Linked DNA regions of Homo sapiens. The protein of the gene in region 2 interacts with the protein of the main gene of each other region in a biochemical or structural test. Each region holds a gene or a part of one and is shown on either strand. Other genes may lie near its edges.

Region 1 (8,018 bases), on a different chromosome or scaffold from region 2:
CCATCTTAAAAAAAAAAAAAAAAGAAAGAAAGAAAATAGATTTTAAAAAAAAAAGAAATGAAGTACTGACACATATTACAACATGGATATACTTTGAAAGCATTATGCTAAACGAAAGAAGCCAGTCACAAAAGACCGCATTTATGGTTTCATTTACATAAAATGTCCACAACAGTCTAATCTATAATGATAGAAAGTCGATCAGTGGTTGCATAGGACTGGGAGTGCTGAGGGAAAATGAAAAGCGACTGTTAATGGATATGGGGCTCTTTTGGGGGATGATTAAAATGCTGTAAAATTGAGTATAGTGATGGCTGCACAACTCTGAATATACAGTCGGCCCTCCATATCCATGAGTTCTGAATACATGGATTCAATCAATGAGGTACAGAAACTACTCAAAAAAAAATTATGTCTGTAAATGAACATGTACAGACTTTTTTCTGGTCATTATTCCCTAAACAATACACAGTATAACAACTATTTACATAGCATCCACATTGTATTAGGTAGTATGAGTGATGTGGAGATGATTTAAAGCATACAAGAGAATATGCAGAGTTTATATGCAAATACTATGTCAGTTTTATTCATTTTTCCTAGGAGACAGGATTTTGCTCTGTCACCCAGGTTGGTGTCCAAACTCTGGCCTCAAGAGATCCTCCCACCTCAGCCTCCTGAATAACTGGGATTACAGGCACAAGCCACTGCACCCAGCAACTATGCCATTTTATTTTAGGGACCTGAGCATCCATAGATTCTGGTGTCTGAGGAAGGCCCTAGAACAAATCCCCAACAGATACCGATGGACAATTGTAGTAAAAACCACTGAATTGTTCACCTGCAAAATGGAGTAATTTTTTAAAAAATTAATAAACCCACCAAACTGTACACTTTAAACTGAACTGACTAGTATGTGAATTATATCATCGTGAAGCTGTTACTCCTCCAAAAATGGTATACAACATGAGCAGGTAAAGCCACTAACATTAGCAGACCCTACAGGCCACAGGTACCAATCTGTTTACTTAGGACAGAAAAATCCCAAAGTTACAAATTCTTTCCAACCATACTCAAGCTGACTATTTTGTAAATGAGTATTTATGTCTGAAATGAAAGGCAATGATAAATCCAATGAGTTAAATCACTAAACTTAAAAATAGGTTGACATAAATATTCAAACTTCAAATGCCCAGGATATTCCAATTTTCTATTTCATGTGTTTAACTACTAGATATCGTCTCAATAATATTTACATGAATGTACTCTGTAAACTGTAATGCTCTATAAAAAGTTTTATTATTCCTAAATTCCCTTAAATGTAATTTAATGGTTTCCAGTCCTATATAAGTCATTCTACCTTTTGAAGAAACTCTGAAACACAAATATCCAATCCTTTCTTAGTAAAGCATACATCCTTCCGTGATTCTGGCACCAAAGAAAGTGCATAATTTACTTCAGGATAGAGAATCACAGATAAAAAGGAAAACAAATCTGATTATCAAACACACGATTACTATTCTCTCATCACCGGATTACAATTTAAACCATTAAGCTGAAGTAAATGTTCATGAACACAAGAAAGGGGGGAATTTTTAACAGTTTTACAATGACGTGTCCCCCTCTTCCTCATTTAATGAAGTACTAAACTTAAAGGCTATTCTGCAGCGAATCTGCCTCCTAGAAAGAGTCCATCCAGGATGCTGGCAGAGGGAAAAAGATTAGAAACTGTGCGATCTGGATTATTCTTGGTGTCACGGAATATTTTTTGAGTCCTTTATGGACATGGAATAAAAATGCCCAAATGGAGCAGAAGAGAGGGCTCGGCTACCCTGATCACAAAGCTCCTGGGGTAGAGTCAGCATCCAGCCCTGGCAGAGCCCTCCCTGTCCTCCTTCCGCGCCCCTAGACCATCCCGTCGCGCGGTCCCTGAGGACCAGCTTCGCGAGGATCCAGAAGGCGGTCACTGGACGTGCCTGTTACGAGCCCGTTTTTGTTTTGCTTAAGAAACAGATTCCGATCCGAGCAAAGCCTCCCTACCTCCCGGGGAATAGGGGGAGATGGCAGCACGGTGCCGGCGTGGAGAGCGAGAATAAAAGAACTGCCGAGTACAACCTGTCGTGCAAGCTAGCAGCGCCGGGAAGGAAAGGTAAGCGGCGGCGATAAGGCACGACAGGGAAGGAAACTGGTGTCCAGCGCCCCCCCCCGCCTGCCCGCCACCCAGAGCGGCCGGAGCCTCCCAGGTCCCGCCCCGAGCTCGCCGCCCAGCCCCGGCGCCGGCCGCAGACTCCCGCCCTACACAAACCCTCCCAGGACGCGCTTCCTCCGGAGCCGGACCCCCGCCCTGGCCTCCCCGCGGGATGAGGCGGGTCAGTTCAGTCCGCTTCTCGGCAGAGGTGACTCGCGCAGAGATGTAAACACGGAGAGACCAGCTGCGCTCGGCCCATCCCCCCCGCCGGGGTCTGTAACCTCTTCCCTCAGCCCTGCCCCGCGCCCCGCGCTCCCCGCGGGCAGGCGCGCAGCGCGCCTTCCCCTTTCTCCAAGTCCCGCTCCGCGACCGTTGCCTGGGGACACTCAGCCCCCTTCCCCCAGCCCCCGGCCGGTGTCACCGCCGCAGCCGCCGGAAAACCCCTCCGCAAACCCCGAAGCAAACAACACAAGCGCGGGGCGGGGGCGCGGAGGGAGGCGGCGGCAGTCGGGACAGCCAGGCTTTATCGCCGCGCCCTTCGCGCTCCCTCTCACCAGCCTCGGCTGCCCGCGCTCTTACCTGCTCTCCGCGACGCCTGGGAAGACCGCGGCGTCCTTTTCCCTCTCAGCAGGGCCGCGGACTAGCCGCCGCCGTTGGCCGAGCGTCCGGAGGGAGCCGGGGCCTCCCCAGCAGCCCGAGCCGCTCCACAGGGAGAGAAGGAGACAAAACAGAGGCTCGCCGCCCCGCGCAGCGACCCCCGCCCGCGCCGCCCCACCGACCCCCAACCGCCTAGGCGACGGCGGCGACACAGAGCTTGGCGCTGGGAGCAATGGTTGCCCCCGCCCCGCTCCGCTCCCGGCCCCCTCCCTCCACCCCCCGCCTCGGCTCCTCCCCCTCGGCCTCCTGCCGCCTCCACCAGGACACTGGAGTCCGCCTCCCCCTCCCCGCCAGCTCAGAGTGCTCCTCCCCTCCCCACGCGGCGGGGGGGCGGGGGCGGCACCGCCAGTCACCGCAGCGCCTGTCAAACGCGGGCCGGCTATTTATACCCCGCGGGGCCCCGCCGCCCTCGGGCCCCCACCAGCCCGCCGAACCTGCTTCTTTTGCTGTCTTGAATCCCGCCCTCTTCTCCTCGCCCAACTTCTCCCAAACCCGCCTTCCCAGGTAAAGACGCTCGTCACTTGTCCGGCTCCTTGCCCAGGGCTCCCCGATCTCGCTCTCCACTCCAGCCCCGGATTGGTGCAGGGGGCTCTGCCGCACGGGGCAGGCGTGTGAGGCCGATGGGGCCGCGCGTGCACCTGCAGCGCCCGCCGGCTTTCCCCCGCCGGCCGGGACCGCACGCACACACCCTCGCCACTCAGGGCCCCCGCAGGCCCCGCCGTCACCGCATCCCCAACTCAGGACTCTCGCCCTTCTCCGGAGACGGCCCCACAGTCGGGCAGTCTGACAGTTACAGGGGGGCGAGGTTTTGCAAAAACTCCTAGCCCGGTCTTTCCAGTTCCCACTCCTCAGCCTTGGCTTAGTGAAAGGTGGGGGTTCGGGCAGGAGCGCGACGCCGGCCCCGCCCCGGCCGGTGACGCACGTGGCGCACCGCCCCGCCAGCCTCGCGCCCCTCGGCGCCGCCAGCTCCTCCTCCCCGCTAGCAAAAGCCGGGCGTAGTACACCCGCGACCCCGCCCCATTCCCAGAAATTACCACCCGCCCAACAGCCCGGCCGCGCGGCGGTTGGTGCCGGCGTTTGCTGGCTGTCGGGTGGCTGGGCCCAGCGCGCAGCTGCGGAGCGCGGCGGGCGGCCCCTTGGAGCTGCCCGGGGAGCTGCGGGCACTCGCACCTAGCCATTGTCGCTCCTTGCGCGGTCCGCAACGGAGAAGTAACTCAAGTCTGAGTGTTGTTGGTGCGAGAATGAGAGAGTGTTCTGGTGTGGGAGTATTTTGGCCCAAGTGCCTGCGAATTCGAAAACGAAAACCCAGCAGTGGCTGCACGCTTCTGGTTTCCACACTTTCACACAAAGGGGAGCCTTCGAGCGGGGCACTCTCACGCGCCTTCAAGTGCACAAAAGCCAATGACACGGTGCCGTGGGTTGCCCTGTGTAGGAGCGTCTCTTTAATGGGCTTTGTAGGCACAGTTAATGCATACAAACGCCTCAGTCTATTTCTTCACCACCACCATTCCCCGCCGCGGCGTTTTCTGTATTTGTTTCTTTAACAAAGAGCACAGCCTGTCCGGTGCGCGCGGGGCTCCTTTTGCTCCCCTCCAGGGCTCCTGCAGCCTCGCCGCGATGGACCTGGCACCTGGCGCGGTATTCACCAGCTGATTTCTGGGCTCCAGCGTTACCCTTTTTACGGCTTCACAACCAGTCTGGAGCAAAGAAGAAACACTGAGGAATATAAGTGATAGCTGTTCTCTTGAAAGGGACGTGGGAACCGTGGAAATCACCCTAGAGTAAGGCTCAAATGTCAGAAAGCTGCAGGAGGCTCCAGATTTAAATCCCTGAAGAGCCTAAGAATGTAATGATCTCTTTCTTTTGTTAATACTGCTGTTGCCTCTATTTTCTTGGGGGTGAGTCTTCTCTTCCTTTCTTAAAAAGCAACTCTGGGCCGGGCGCAGTGGCTCACGCCTGTAATCCCAGCACTTTGGGAGGCCCTGGAGGGTGGATTGCCTGAGGTCAGGAGTTCGAGACCAGCCTGCCTAACATGGTGAAACCCCGTCTCCACTAAAAATACAAAAATTAGCTGGGCGTGGTGGCACACGCCTGTAGTCCCAGCTCCTCGGGAGGCAGGAGAATCGCTTGAACCCCGGAGGTAGAGGTTGCAGTGAGCCGAGATCGCAACACTACACTCCAGCCTGGGCGACAGAGCAAGACTCCTTCTCAAAAAAAAAAAAAAAAAAAAAAAAAGGCCGGGCGCGGTGGCTCACTCCTGTAATCCCAGCACTCTAGAAGGCCGAGGCGGGCGGATCACCTGAGGTCAGAAGTTCAAGACCATCCTGGCTAACACGGTGAAACCCCGTCTCTACTAAAAATACAAAAAATTAGCCGGGTGTGGTGGTGTGTGCCTGTAATTCCAGCTACTCGGGAGGCTGAGGCAGGAGAATCGCTTGAACCCGAGAGGCGGAGGTTGCAGTGAGCCCAGATCGCACCATTGCACTCTAGCCTGGGCAACGAGAGCGAAACTCCGTCTCAAAAAAAAGCAAGTCCGAGGGCTCTTATTCTTATTTAAGAAATTTTTACTCTTGAACACAGAGGAAACCTGGAGACCGTGACTGTTAATCAAAGATCCTCTTAACTCTTGACAAAGTTTTCTGGATTCCTGAGTTCTAAATCATGGGACTGTTGACACCCTTTTGAACTAAAGAATTTGTAACAATTTGGTAACATTCAAATCTTTAATACACAATAAACAGGATTCTGCAAACAGAGCACCCTTTCTAAGGGAGTCTTTTTATCTCACTTCTTGTAAATAACTTATCACTTATGGGAACCATTGCCCAATTTGATATTTGTAAGGAATTAATTAATAATCAATAATATTGCATCTTCATAACATAACATAGCATACTAAGGAGCCGGCAAAGACAAAGACTGATTCCTGTTGTTAGGGACAGATATCACCTGCCAAGTCACATAATTTCTGTTGTCAGCCACGTTGAGAAGAAATTCTCTCCCACTGCCGATTGGCAGTAAGCTGGAAAGTCCCAGGTGGATAACAGTGGTAGATAACATTATTGTTCCCAATTTTTCACTACTCCATGCATGCATGCCATTTGAAATACGGCTTTGTAGTTCCTCTCAGTAGAGATAGGATGTTTCTCCATCCTGTTCATGTTGAGCTTAGATCAGTCCATTTGCTTTTGGTCAAAGGAAGATAGGCAGAAGTGAGTGTGACAGTTCTGAGCCTGGCCTCAAGAGGTATTTCATGTTTCTCCTTCCCTCTCTGGCACTCTTGTTTTTCACAATGTGAAGAACATACCTGGCTAGTTTGCTGGTCAAAGAAATATGAAGCAGGTCTGAAGCCAGTCCCAGCTTGGGGTCAGCAACCTAGAGAATAAAGGATTGTTGTTTCAAGCCGTGTTTTGGAGTAATAGCGTTTTGGAGTAATAGTGTTTTGGAGTAGTTGGTTCCTGGAATTAGTGTTGTGATAGCTGACTGAAACAACAGCAGAAAGAGCAATCTGCTTCCTTCATATTGGCCTGCAAGGTGCCTAACTTGGTGTGTCTCAGGCAGCTCTTTGGCTATGGTTCTTAAACACATCCCTTATGGAGGCCAGCGGAGTAAGGAACCCAGAAATTTTACAGCAAGCTTGTCCAACCCAGGGCCTGCAGGCTGCATGCGGCCCTGGACCGCTTTGAATGCAGCCCAACACAAATTTGTAAACTTTCTTAAAATACTTTTTTGCGATTTTTTTTTTAAGCTCATCAGCTATCATTAGTGTTAGTGTATTTAATGTGTGGCCCAAGATAATAATTCTTCCAGTGTGGCCCTGGAAAGCCAAAAGATTGGACACCCCTGGTTTACAGTAAAGCATTCTAGAGAACAGGGGTCAGAAGGAAAAGTCTAGTGTGACCAGTAGTCCTAGTAGCAAGCTAATGATCATGGAATAGGAAATCTCTGTTGTAACTGGATTGCTTTTGCTGTTTTTTATGTTATATAGTTTTTTATGTTATATAGTTTATTTTTTAATTATTTTTATATTTTATTTAATTATTTTTATTATAGTTTATTTTTTAATTATACAATGATTCATTAATACATTCTCATCATCAATTTTCAAATAATTCAAAATAAACTTTTTAAAACCCAAGTTCACCTTCCCTCTCCATTTCCCTTCCCACTTCTCACTTACCCTTCACACTTACGCAGCCATCCCCTACCTCTACTTTTCCACAGATAACCATAAATGAAAATTTAGCCTTTAAGCTTCTAGGCCTTTTTCTGTGCATGTATATACATATACATATATTTATATACTAAATATAAATGATTATATGCATATTAGGTATAATGCTTTTATACTTCTTTTCTCTGTGTTATTTCTCCCTTTGTTTTCTTCAATATATAGGAAAGTGATTTTTTTTAAAATTATTTCATCCTTGGCTGGGTGCTGTGGCTACATCTGTAATCCCAGCACTTTGAGAGGCCAAGGTGGGAGGATCATTGAGCCCAGAAGTTCAAGACCAGCATGGGCAGGAGGATCACATAGTTTGAGACCCCATCTCTACAAAGAAAATAAAATAAAGTTAGCCAGGTGTGGTGGTATGGATATGTAGTCCCAGCTACTGGGGAGGCTGAGGCAGAAGGATCACATGAGCCCAGGAGTTTGAGGTTGCAGCGTGCTGTGCTCTCACCACCCCACTGCAGCCTGGGTGACAGAGTGAGATCCTGTCTCAAAAATAAATAAACAAAATAAAACAAATAAAATTTCATTCTGCCTTCAGTATAATAGACTAACCAAAGGAAGAGATTTTCCTGCTTTTATATCAGAATATTAAATGGTAGGATGACACTTTAGGGCTCAGTATGGGGGTGGCAGTGACAATCAACATGAGGAACAGAAGAGAAGACAAAATTCTGAGTAGTGGCCAGTAAGTCATTTCCCTCTCCCAACCTTTCAACTTCACATTCTCAGGCAAATCCTTGGAAGTACGAGTTATGTTTGATTAAATGAGGTAATTGTCCCTTATGACATTCCAAGTCCAAGAGAATATAGTGGAAGCTATGCTGCCTTTTCTGACCTAACTTCTGGAGTCACATACCATCACTTCTGTTGTATTCTCTTGGTCACACAGATTGATCCTAATTCAGTGTGGGAGAGTACTACACAAGGACATTCATACCA
Region 2 (7,399 bases):
GTTTGCTTGGCTTCACTCCTCTCTTTCCCCCCAATTTCCACATGGGTATCTGGCTAAAAATGAGTTACAGGTTTCCTTCTGTGAGAATTGCATGGACTGATAAAGTACCATCCCAGGAAGAAAACAAAGATGCTGTCTTCCCTTTCGGCTCACAGTTGCCGTTGGGGAGGGAACACACGCTGTAAATTATAGGCAGCCAGAAGTGACCGCATTGACCACTGCGAGTGGCCCAGCTATGGCAACAGGCTGAGAACTCTGGGGGAGAGCCATTTGTTGGCAGGGATGGTGATTCTTCTAGCATCAAGCTCTAAGATGATGACCAAACGGTATCAAAAGAAATGATATTTTGCTACCTCTCCGGCTTGGGTGAATGATGTGGACAGTTAACCTGGACAATTTAAACCTTTATGTTGATGGATCACTTGGATGAAATTAACCAGGAAATTGCCAAGATTTCACTTGGCCCTCTGACATCAAATCTCAATATTATATTACCAAATTAGAGATTCTAAAGAACCCTGAGTTCCTTTCACTGAAAGGAAGGAGTGGAAAAACCTTTCCAGATGATCCCTTTTGAGTCTTGGTGCGAGCTCAGGCCCTCCCTACACTGCCTCCGTGAAAGCTAACCGACCCTTGTTCCTAACCTAGCGCAGGTCAGCTGAGTGTCCATCGGGCACAGGAGCCCTGGGCTTGTCCGGGAGATAGCCAGACTCCTGCTATTTCCTGATGTCTGCATAGCTCAGCGTGTCCCTCACCATCTTTGCCGTTGGCCAGTAAGGAGAGCCCCAGGGGCCAGCACTGCACACTGAAACCCAACCTATTGCTCAATGGAATGCTTAAAAATTTCCTGAATCTGCCTTCCTGAGTTGATAAAATAGGAAACAATACACGTTCTGAGGGGGTACTGAAAGCAGAGTAAAGCCAGGAAGATCTTTTTTTTCTGTTATTCTATACAAATATTGCTTCCTCTGCTTGTTAGCAGCCCAGAGGAAATGCAGCCAGGGAGCCGTTTGCAGCTTTTCACCAGTGGCCGGTGTCTCTGTGTTACCAACCAAACGACGCTGCAAGACTAGTGACTAACGCACGTCTGCATGATTCAACTTCACTAAAATTCCCTCTGCTGCCAGTAAAGAAGCACTTGAAAACTCTTTAATTTGAAACTTGAGCTTGGTTAATGACTTGTTTTCTTCTCTTTCTCTTTAACTTCTCTCTTGCCATCTCCAACACACACACACACACACACACACACACACACACACACACACACACACTCTCTCTCTCTCTCTCTCTCTCTCTCTCTCTCTCTCATCAAGTTTTTTAATTTCAGGGACCCGGAAACATACAGCCCCGTGCATTCACAATAGCATTTGCTGTGATAAAGTGGCCGGCAAGCCCTCTGCATTCCCCTGCTCACTTAGCTGTATGAATAAATAATGAGTCACAGATACAATTTGGGTGCTCAAGAGAGTTTGTAGCCAGAAAATTAATTATTCTCCCATCCCAGCCCACTCCATCTCAGCTTTGCCAAACCATCAAGATACACTTTGCAGGCACTGGTCAGAGTGCGTGCCCCGACGCACACGGCAATGCCTTTGAGACATTTTATGTTATTATTTTTGTTTGTTTAAGCACAGCCCTCTTTTACCACGAAAGATACACAAGACGCACATGCACACACATACTCACACACTCACAGCTCAACCACAGCTTTGTCCATTTCAAGAGGCTGGTTTCAAAAATGGAGACAGGTTTTCCACCCTGGCTGTTCCTATTCATAAGCCTGTAATCTAACGACTTAAGCTGCGAGAATGCTTAACTCGGGAAACTTCTCTATTGCCCTTTTCCAGAGAGACCTCGGTATGCCACAATTTGCTTCCTTTCTCTCTTGAAAGATGCTGGTTGTCTCTTTGCATTGAGGCTACAAGGAAAAACACAGCACAGCCCCATGCTGATGATTTTAACCTAACCAAGTCTGTCAGTCTCCTGTACTCTCTGCCTTATAGAGACAGCTGCCTTGCCACTTTGGCCCTGAAGTCCCCAGGCTGGTGCAAGGCTATCTGAGAGCCTCCGCCTCCTGCCCCACACTGGCACCAGCCCTCCTGGCTGGCTCTGTGCATGTGCCTGCTAAGCCCCAGGGCAGGCTGCATTCTGGGCCACACAGCATGCCGAGTTAAGGATAACTCAGACACAGGCATTCCGGGCAAGGGACAGCAAAATAAAACCCAGGGAGCTTCGTGCAAGCTTCATAATCTCTAAGCCTTTAAACAAGACCAGCACAACTTACTCGCACTTGACAAAGTTCTCACGCACCGACTGAACACTCCAACAGCATAACTAAGTATTTATTAAAACATTTCTGAAGAGCTTCCATCTGATTAGTAAGTAATCCAATAGACTTGTAATCATATGCCTCAGTTTGAATTCCTCTCACAAACAAGACAGGGAACTGGCAGGCACCGAGGCATCTCTGCACCGAGGTGAAACAAGCTGCCATTTCATTACAGGCAAAGCTGAGCAAAAGTAGATATTACAAGACCAGCATGTACTCACCTCTCATGAAGCACTGTGGGTACGAAGGAAATGACTCAAATATGCTGTCTGAAGCCATCGCTTCCTCCTGAAAATGCACCCTCTTCTGAAGGCGGGGGACTCAATGATTTCTTTTACCTTCGGAGCGAAAACCAAGACAGGTCACTGTTTCAGCCTCACCCCTCTAGCCCTACATCTCTCTTTCTTCTCCCCTCTGCTGGATACCTCTGGGACTCCCCAAGCCCTATTAAAAAATGCACCTTTGTAAAAACAAATATTCAAATTGTTAAAGATTAAAAAAAAAAAAAAAGCCAGCGCCGCCTTGGCTGTGGGTTGGTGATGCTCACCACGCTGCGAAACCCTGTGGTTTGCATTCAGTGTGATTCGTCCTGCCTGCTGACCACTATGCTGGGTTCAGACTTCTGACACTGCCAGGCTACCCAACTTGTGGTTCTGTGGTTGTTTATGAGGCCCAAAGAAGTTTTCACACAACCCAAATTACAAATTTAACTGTTCCCCTTTCCACAGCCCATCTCAATTGGTTCTTGCCAATCATGTGACTTAAGTGATGTCAATTTTTTTTTTTCTTTTCTGAGCAATGCCCTTCCTTCCCTCCACCTGCCCTCCCCCAGGCTGTGCAAGAAAATAGCCGAGTAGACTTTGCAAGAGGGGGGGATGTAGAAAAAAGTGACTCAGTCACTTATTATATCTCAATGGTCTTTGCTGATTTAGTACAACTCGGCTCCTGTTGTTATTTGTGGTTTTTGGAACTACTGATTATTTTGATAAAGATTTCATTGCTGCTTATTCAATAGTAATTCAACGCTGGCATCAAGCCGCTGCTCCGACAGGATGTGGATCCCATCATTTAAAATGCTAGGCATCAGCTCCGGGAGAGTTAAGTCCTTGGTAACGTCTATCATGGCATAAGTGAAACTATAAAAGGGAAAAATAAATAAAAAGAAATGTTTTGGTGAGAGTCTGACCCCTACAACGGGCTGGCAACTCACAGGTATTTTAAAGCCTGGGAAAGGGAAAGAATTTTACTTTTGAAATAAAAGGACTGTTTTAATGAAACCAAAATTATGTGGTTTTATTCCCCCTAAATGGACAACTTTAGTATGTATCTCTTTCAGTAAAGAGATAAAATCATAGTACAGTCTTAACACACACACACACACACACACACACACACACACACACACAAATTAGGAAGCTAAAGGAAAACAAAGCAGAGAGAATTTCTGTATTTGGGACAAAGCAGTGGTTACTCTGCAGATGTTTATTTGTATTGTCACTTGGGAAAGCTCCCTGTATTGCCTTTCTCTAGTTCAATTCAAATCAATAGGCTAATTTACACCTGTAGGTAAAACTACACTTTGAGCACATGAGGATGCCACAATAGAAGGGGAACCAGGAGGAGACACTTCTCCTGGGGCTGACTAATGAATATTATATAGCGCGTCCTCTACCTTAGAAAGACATGCCTGTTTGAAGATGCTAAAAACAGGATAATTTTGTAAGTGGGCAAACCACTGTGGTCACACGTATTTCATTTTCCGGCCCCACTGGCTTTACCTGCTGACAACTAAAACGTCATTTTGTTTTGTAGTTCCAAGATGAAGAAAGGCTTATTTTCCTGATTTACTACCTTATTCATTTGGCTCTGCTCTGCCTACATCCGCCATAGCACTCTGCGCACGTGAAATTTCGACACATAGGGTCAAGAGAACCTGTGTGATGATGGGTTGTAAATGCCAGTCCTGGATTCTAAGCTGCAGTAGCCAGCACAGGCACTTCAGAAAGGCTGAACTCCCACAACACTCCCTCGGTTTTCCCTCATCCACTTAATTTCACACACACAAAGACCCACAACGATAGTAGCTTCCATGGCACAAGTCTTTCAAAAGGAACAGACACAATTTTTACTTACTCCTGTTTTGACTAAAGCAGGAATTGAAACTCAACAGACCGCTTTCTCTTACACTTGTGAGAAGTTAGCTGGCCACATGTTGACACTGCTAACATCTAAAAAAGAATAATAGTGCTACATCTCTTTTATGAGGCTCGTGAATCTTTAAATGTGATGCGTGTTTCATATTGCTTCTCAGTGCAAATCCCCTGTGAACATAATGAACATAATGGGCCTGTGTTGTTACCCTCCCTAATAAAGTCAAGCCTGAGTTGAACCCCAAACCAGGTTCATTTTTCTCTCCCACACTTAATATTCCCTGGAAGGGCCCTAAGAGCCGAGGGCTGTAATGTGCAGCTGCCACTGCAGAGTCGACTCACACTTAATAATGACTTAGCAATTCAAGGGGCCATACAGAATATCCTTGGGAGATTTAATTTTAGAAACTCCCCAGATGCTTTTAGCCTTAGGTGTCCAGATGCTTAGGAGAAGGGTTTGGATGAGGCAGTGAACGGCCTGAATTCTCAACTTTTCTCTTTGGGCCTAGCTCTAGCCAGATATCTATTTCTTCCAGTGGGGTCTTTGTAGGACAGGTTAGAGTGTAAAGACACTCTAAGGCTGGGGCTCGTTGAAGCCTCACTATACGCTGTCATCTTCGGGACTGAGGTTTCAACAGGGCACCAGGGGGCAGAATACAAAGGCCTGCACGCTGGCCCTGCACGGCCTTCCTGGGCGGGGTTAACAGCCACGGCAGCCGCAGCATAACTTCGCAGCTTGGTGAGGCAACAGTTGGAGCTTTTCTGGGCACCCTCCAGGTCATGACAATAAGTAAAGCCTCAGCCAGCTGCTGGTGAACTTGGCCTTACCACTTCCCTAGGAGCCCAAGACAAAAGGGCACGTCTGTCATCAATGAACCGCCTGGAGAAATACTTAATCCTAACTTAACTAGAACGGTTTAGGACTCTTTAAGTTTGTGTATTGACCCACACCCTCTGTCCTAGTTCCTGCAAGTGACTCAGACCCTGGGTTTCTGGCTTGGGGATTGTACCCAAGAGTCTGCAGTGGACTGTGGCTTTGCCAAGGAATTGGATGACAGTTTTCATTCTCGCTCATATTGGCTGCAGCTTCTAAATGCCACCATGGGTGGGGGGGCGGGGTGGGGAGAAAATGCTCAGGTGTCTTTTTTAATGGCCCTATGAAAATACTAGAAAGGGTTGACAGATGTTTACCTGCATAACCCTGTAATTAATGTATAGACTTCTGTGTGCAGTCCAATCCAATCAAAGCACCCTCTGTTAGGGATATTCATTACATGATTGCCGCATGCTATCTCTGAACTCCACATGTCTATTATAAAGTAGATTCTCTGGCCAGAAAATGGAGGCAGAGATGGACCACCCAAATTGGATGGAGTCTAAAATCCCAGGAGGACAATGCTACTGAATTTTCTCTATGTAGCGTGGATTTTCCTTATTTTCTAAATCTGTTTTCTAACAGATGTCCTATCCAGAAACTTCCATGCTATGCTGACAGTGAGGTCAGGGATGATTTTTAAATTGGGACGTAGACATCAAAGCTTCATGGGATGACTATAACCTGCTTTTGGCAAATCCAATGGTTTGAGACAGCTAGGGAGCCCTAGAAGCCCAGCTATTAAAGATGTTCTTTCCTGGACACTCATGATGGTGCCCACACAGGACACATCTCTCTTCCGCACAGGCCTCTCACTTCTTTAGATAAAGGTGCAATTCAAATTTAAGCTACCCAAGACTTTATTTTTTTTGAGACACAGTCTTGCTCTGTCGCCCAGGCTGGAGTGCAGTGGTGCGATCTCAGCTCACTGCAAGCTCCGCCTCCCAGGTTCACGCCATTCTCCTGCCTCAGCCTCCCGAGTAGCTGGGACTACAGGTGCTCGTCACCACGCCCGGCTAATTTTTTGTATCTTTAGTAGAGACGGGGTTTCACCGTGTTAGCCAGGATGGTCTTGATCTTCTGACCTCGTGATCCACCCACCTCGGCCTCCCAAAGTGCTGGGATTACAGGCGGGAGCCACCGCGCCTGGCCTCAGTATTTACTTCTTAACCTTTCCTAGATGAAGAGGTATTGTTGGGGAAATATGATTTCAAAAGGAAAAAAGAAAGAAAAAAGGCAGACATTGAAACCAACCTGCCACTTGAATGTTATGTAATGATATGAAGAGCAGCTAGGGAGAATTATTTCAAATGAAAGAGTTTCAACTGCTTCCTCCTCTGCTTGCAGACTGCAGGTGAGCAGTGTCGATGGCACCCAGGAACTTGTTGAGACTCTGCATTGCGGGCTGTATCCCAGGCCTACTGAATGAGAATCTGTATTTTTACAGTTCCTCGGGTGATTCTATACACATTAAAGTTTGAGAAACATTGCTGAGGAAAGCCTTGCATCTATTGGAATTTAGTAGAGAAATAATAACATGGTGTTTGCATTCTTTGAGATGTCTTTTTCTTCCTTTGAGCTTTCTGAAACTTTTCTACTTTGTTGCTCTGACATAATTTTGTAAGCCCTGGATGTTTCTAGACAGCAGAAACCCACAAGAGGCAAGGCCCACGTCCTCTAAGGTAGCATTTTCTTGGATTGTCACTCGGACCTCTCATCTCAAGTGCCGTGTTTGGGTCAAGTTTACAGTCTGAGGTTTGACACACAATGTAGGGAGGCTCTCCCTGTGCTCCATCTGCCTAGCTGGTGGCCATGTGTATATAAACAGAAGGCTTTTTCCTCTGGGGGCACCAGACTCTCAGTTTTCACCTAGTCTGCAGTTTGGAAACACATTAATCCTGTGAGTTCTTCCAGACACACAGCACGTGTCCACGTGGCAGGCAGCGTCGCAGGTGGCCTTGCAGTCCTGCCATGGGCTGTCCCCCTCCCAGAGGGTTGCCTGGCCCCGCTCTCCAGCCACTGCCTTGCCGAGGTCATGCCCTCCTT

What was found. Proteins that work in one complex are often made in the same cells at the same time.
Region 1: the proteins of RUNX1 (region 2) and ELF2 form a complex in vitro, tested with the Homo sapiens proteins (2 studies listed by BioGRID and IntAct).

The regions. Positions count from the first base shown.
Region 1 is NC_000004.12:139,174,200-139,182,217, forward strand, and holds the start of ELF2 (ETS-related transcription factor Elf-2), read right to left. Parts: upstream 3,020-8,018; 5' UTR 2,768-3,019; intron 2,368-2,767; exon of another isoform or gene 2,306-2,367; intron 2,150-2,305; exon of another isoform or gene 1,956-2,149; intron 1-1,955. UniProt on the Homo sapiens protein: Isoform 1 transcriptionally activates the LYN and BLK promoters and acts synergistically with RUNX1 to transactivate the BLK promoter. Isoform 2 may function in repression of RUNX1-mediated transactivation.
Region 2 is NC_000021.9:35,046,292-35,053,690, forward strand, and holds the start of RUNX1 (runt-related transcription factor 1), read right to left. Parts: upstream 3,012-7,399; 5' UTR 2,877-3,011; exon of another isoform or gene 2,668-2,876; 5' UTR 2,609-2,667; coding exon 2,551-2,608; intron 1-2,550.